Linked DNA regions of Homo sapiens: region 1 is linked to region 2. Evidence: fine-mapped expression QTL. A gene starts in region 2. The other region holds a variant in brackets. All regions are shown on one strand. Distances are from middle to middle.

Evidence for each region. PIP is the estimated chance that this variant, and not a neighbour inherited with it, causes the effect.
Region 1: its variant is fine-mapped to the expression of TIPRL in whole blood (TOPMed, PIP 0.91).

The regions. Positions count from the first base shown.
Region 1 is chr1:168,140,953-168,143,864 of GRCh38, reverse strand. No RefSeq gene overlaps it. Among named protein-coding and RNA genes, the nearest start is that of GPR161, 5.5 kb to the right of the region's middle. The variant T/A (reference allele first, on the strand shown) is at 1,608.
Region 2 is chr1:168,177,302-168,180,213 of GRCh38, reverse strand. TIPRL (TOR signaling pathway regulator) reads right to left here and starts at 1,252. Exons shown (of 7, transcript NM_152902.5): 1 at 1,033-1,252. The coding sequence starts at 1,136. RefSeq lists enhancers at 1,021-1,140, 1,128-1,629.

The sequences.
Region 1 (2,912 bases), 36 kb after region 2:
TTAGAGATGTGGTCTCACTATATTGCCCAGGCTGCTCTTGAACTCCTGGCCTCAATTCTTCTACTTCAGCCTTCCAAAGTACTGGGATTACAGGCATGAACCACTGTGCCTGGCTTCTTATTCTTTTTGATGTTCAAATTGTCCCTTCAGATCAGCTCTTGTATCTTTTCAAAATGACCCCATTGGTCTTTGAAATCTCTTTTCTGGTACACAAAGATATTCCAGATTCATTTTATATGTTTTGTTTTTTTTTTTTAAAAAAAAGCATATAAAGTTCAGACCTGGAATAAGCCATTTCTGCAAGGAGCCTTAGTTCCTCTTAATGAGAAGTGGTATTTTAAGACTACGTCTGCTTGCTAGCAGTGTTCATTGCTACAGGAGTGCTCACTCCTTCTGTGTTCTCATTTCTTCTTGCCTTTTGAGTGGTTAGGGTTGGCAAACGCAAATTATTCTTTGCAGGTAGGTTTTTACTTACCTATACACTTTTATATTTTTTTCCTTGCGAAAAATCACAGGTCCCACAACATAAAGGTAATTACTTATTTGCTTTTTTCTATGTGTGTGTGTATTTTTTTCTTTTTTTGAGACGGAGTCTCGCTCTTTCTCCCAGGCTGGAGTGCAGTTGCACGATCTCGGCTCACTGCAAGCTCCGCTGCCTGGGTTCACGCCATTCTCCTGGCTCAGCCTCCGGAGTAGCTGAGACTACAGGTGCCCGCCACCACACCCGGCTAATTTTTTTTTGTATTTTTAGTAGAGACGGGGTTTCACTGTGTTAGCCAGGATGGTCTCGATCTCCTGACCTCAAGATCCGCCTGCCTCGGCCTCCCAAAGTGCTGGGATTACAGGCATGAGCCACCACGCCCGGCCTTTTTCTATGTATCTTAATTGTTTCAGACAACAATACCAGAGTACCACTGACATAAGAGAACTGAGTGAGATTGAGTTTTGTTTTTTTTTTGAGATTCTTTTTGTCCTAAGAACATATCCCACTAGGAAAGTGCCATCAAAATATTATATTCTAAACTCACTTGAAATTTTTGTTTTGAGCCGGAGTCTCACTCTGTTGCCCAGGCTGGAGTGCAGTGGCAGGATCTCAGCTCACTGCAACCTCCATCTCCTGGGTTCAAGCAATTCTCCTACCTCAGCCTCCCAAGTAACTGGGACTACAGGCATGAGCCACCATGCCTAGCTAATTTTTGTATTTTTTTTTTTAGTAGAGATGGGGTTTCGCCATGTTGGCCAGGCTGATCTCGAACACCTGACTTCAGGTGATCTGCCCACCTTGGCCTCCCAAAGTGCTGGGATTACAGGCATGAGCCACCGCACGCGGCCCAAAAATTTGTTTTTTAAAAACTTCTTTAAAAATGATTTTTCTTTTTCTTTAGAGACAAGGTCTTGCTATTTTGGCTAAGCTGGTCTTGAACTCCTGGGCTCAAATTATCCTCCCACCTCAGCCTCCCAAAGTGCTGGGATTATAGGCACGATCCATTGTGCCTGGCCCTGAAATTCTTTATATTGTTGTGGCAGAATTGGAAGATAGCTTGACAAAGATGCCCTTTCCTAATCCCCAGGACCTTTGAATATAATGAGATATCATTCCTAGGATT[T/A]TGTTGTTTGATACAGTTGACCTTACGACAGGGAATGTAGACCTGATGTATCACATGAATCCTTAAAAACAAAGAGCTCTCTCTGGCTGAAAGGGGAATTAAGAGGAAGCCAGAAAGGTCAGGGTATGAGAAGGATTTGACATGCCTTTGCTGACTTTGAAGATAAGGGGACCACATGAGGAAGAATTGCAGGCAGCCTCTGGGAGCAGAGGGTGGCCCCACTGCCAGCCAGCAAAGAAATGGGGGTTTCCATCCCACAGTGGCAAGAAACTAAATTCTGCTGGCAGCCTGAACAAGCTTGGAAGCAGAGTCCCCGCAAAAGCCTCCATATAAGAGCTCAGATTAGCCAGCACCTTCATTTTGGCATTCACATGAGCAGAAAACCCAACTGAGCCTGCCTGGACTTCTCTCTAAACTGTGAGATTAAAAAAAAATGAGTGTTTTGCCAGGTGTGGTGGGTCACACCTGTAATCCCAGTGACTCGAGAAGCTAAGGTAAGGGGATTGCTTGAGGCCAGGAGTTCAAGACCAGCCCAGACAACATAATAGAGTGTTTTAAGCTGCTAAATTTGTGGTAATCATTATGCAGTGACAGAAAACTAATAAAAGTTCATATGCCACCAACTTGATATTCATCCTAGTTTTTCTTCAGTTTTTGGAGGTTTTTTCTTTTTTGAGTTAACTTTTCTCAAATTTGTAAAATATGTACTTAGTTTCAAAGCCATACAGCAAGGAACCTTCCTAGAAACCTTGCTTTCTTTTTCATTCCTTCTGTTTGTTCCTTTCCCTTATTGGAAACCTTCTTTTTATTGTTTTTGGTTTGTTTTTCCACTTTTAAGTATAAGCAAATACCTATATATTTATTTTCTTTCCTTTTCTCACATAAAAGATAACATAGGCTGGGCGTGGTGGCTCACACCTGTAATCCCAGCACTTTGGGAGGCCAAGGAGGGTGGATCATTTGAAGTCAGGAGTTCAAGACCAGCCTGGCCAACATGGTGAAACCCCGTCTCTACTAAAAATAAAAAATTAGCCTGGTGGTAGTGGGGCGCGCCTGTAATCCCAGCGACTCGGGTGACTGAGGCAGGGGAATCGCTTGAGTCTGGGAGACAGAGGTTGCAGTGATCTGAGATCGCGTCACTGTACTCCAGTCTGGGCAACAAAGTGAGACCATGTCTCAAAAAAAAAAAAAAGATAATGTATAGCAAATATTCCTGCACCTTGCTTTTTTCCACTTAACAATACGTCTTTGAGGCCACTACATGTTAGTGTATAGAGATTTTCTTCATTCATTTGTAGCACTGAA
Region 2 (2,912 bases):
ATCCCAGGGACTTAATCTTCTAAAACCTATCTTTTCTCTTACTAACTGGTCTCCTTCCCATCCCTGCGGACCTGCAATCCAGCCTCAACATGGCCTCCAGAGAAATCTTTCAGAGCGTACATCTGATAATGCAGCTCCTTTGGATAAAATTACACCCAGTGGTTGTCAGATAAAATTGAAAACTCCTTAGCCAGGCATAAAAATTCCCTCAGTATCTTGATTCCCCTGGGGCCTACCTCTCATCTCTCACAACACCCCCTATGGTACCTCACGCTCCAATCACACGGACACAGCTCTTTAAACACATCACAGCTTTCACTCTCCCTGAGCCCCCAGCTTTACATGCGTCCCCTGATTCCCCTAAATTTTGTCAAGATTCAGCCCAGGCATCAAAAACGCATCACAACTCACTCTGCCTGACCTGATGGCATGTACCTATCCACCGCCCCCCGCAACGGTTTTATAAAGATTCAGTTCAGGCATCCCAATTTCCCAGATGGTTCGAGCCCCTAAAAGACCTCACATCACTCCGTGTATACATCTTCATTACATTTATTCACGCTGTAATATAATTGTCTGTCTCTCTCACGAGACTGTGAATTGAGGCGCACGTTGTCTTTTACATTTCCTATCTCAAGCGCCGGGCACAGCACCTGACGTGACAGAAACCAAACTTATAAATCATCCCCGTCATTAACCCCTAAGAAAACAGGCAACAGCCACCCAGAAAGAAAGGTGGTGCAGGCTGAGGCAGGAGGAGACGTTTGGTGAGGGGAAAGTCCACCAGAACAGTCACACTCTACTCAAACCCAGGCGGATTGACAGTTGACGAAAGCAGCGCCTGGCGATCCCCAACCAAAGGGCCCGGAAGTGTGACTGGATTATTTATCGAAGTTGTCAATCAAAGGTCCGGTCCGGAGGGACCGAACCTCCGCCTCAGGGAAAAGGGGAGGGGCTGCACAGAGTTCGCCCTGCCTCCCGCCCTGGGCCAGCAACCGGCCAGCGCCCAGACCCCGTGCCCCGAAGCCTCACTTCTCCACATCCGCCGACTTCATGATGTGGGTCTTGGACGCCGTCAGCTTCCAGGGCCCGAAGCAGAAATCCCGGTGGCTGCTCTGGAAGCCGTGGATCATCATGGCTGAGGCAGGACCCGCAGAGGCCACAAGGAATAAGCTGAAGCAGCGGCGGCGGCGAACACCGGTTCCTCCGCCTCCCTCCGGCCCAGCCTCCTAGGCTTCCGAGCCGTTACCATGCCCGGCCCCGCCCCCTGCCGGCCGACCCGGACGCGGGCTCTGCTTCCCGTCTTCTTCTCCGCCTCTTTGCTTTTTGCTTCCGGGACTAGTTGCTCTTGTTGCGTGACCCACGTCTTACGTTCCGGCGTTCCGGAAAAAAGGAAAAAGGAGAAAGTCAGAGGGGCGGCACTTGGGTTGCAGAAGGTGTGGTTAGGAACGCACCGCCCTCTTGAACTCGTTGGGTGACGTCATCTCGAAGGATTTTAGGGACTGCCAGGGAAGGGGATGACGGTTCCAACTTGATCCTTACAGACCTCAAAGCAGTGTGATTACCTCATGTGTTAGTGAATCGTGTTACAGAGGAAATTTTTCTGTTTTGAGGTCAAAAAAAGAAGTAATCCCACAGAGTTTAGGAAATCCAGCACCAACAAGATTTAGAAGTGGCCATCTAGCCACTCTTGACTATGACCAACTCCTATCAAAAATTGCATCCTCGTAGATATGCGAAGACTTTCCATGGTCTAGTTGCTATGTAGGCACCCAGTATAGTGAAAACAACACAGCTGACTTAGTGCTAAATCTCCATTTGCAACACTATTGTGTGAATCCTTGGGCAAAGCGCTTCTCTAACGATTTTAGGCTTCAGTTGCCTCAAAATGAGATGATTTTGTTAATGGAAAAAAAACAAATTCTGTAAAAGGTTTTAAAGAGATTTATTCTGAACCAATATGAGTGACCATGGCCCAGGGAATAGTCCCAAGAGGTCCTAACAAAGAGCATCTGAAGCGGTGGCATTACTCTTTGTTTTATACATTTTAGGGAGTTGGGAATTGCAGGTAAAATAAGTCAATATATGGAAGATATACATTGGTTCAGGCTAAGGAAGTGGGATGTCTTGAAGGAGAGGCTTACAGATCATAGGTGGATTCAAAGATTTTCTGATCGGCAATCTGTTGAAAGATTTAAGCTTTAGTCAGGCGAGGTGGCTCCTGCCTATAATCCCAGCATCTTGGGAGGCCTAGGTGAGAGGATTGCTTGAGTCCAGGAATTTGAGACCAGCGTGGGCACCAGAGTAAGCCCTCATCTCTACAAACCGTGTTAATTAGCTGTGTATGATGGTATCTGCCTGTAGTCCCAGGCCACTTGAGAGGCTGTGGTGGGAGGATCTCTTGAGCCTCAGAGGCTGCATTGAGCCATGATCATGCCACAGCACTCATGCCTGGGTGAGCGAGACCCTGTCTCAAAAACAAATAAAAACACAGGCCAGGTGCAGTGGCTCAAGACTGTAATCCCAGCACTTTGGGAGGCCAAGGTGGGTGGACCACCTGAGGTCGGGAGTTCAAGACCAGCCTGGCCAATATTGTGAAAACCTGTGTCTACTAAAAATACAAAACTTAGCCAAGCACGGTGGTGGATGCCTGTAACCCCAGCTACTAGGGAGGCTGAGGTGGGAGAATCACTTGAACCTGAGAGGCAGAGGTTGCAGTGAGCCGAGATCGTGCCACTGCACTCCAGCCTGGGTGACAGAGTAAGACCTTGTCTCAAAAACAAACAAACAAACAAACAAAAAACAGTGTTAAGCTTTGTCTAAAGACTTGAAGTCAGTAGAAAGGAATGCTTAAGAAAAGGGAGTCTGCTATCTGTCATGTGATTCTACACCAGTCAGGTTGGAAAGTAAGG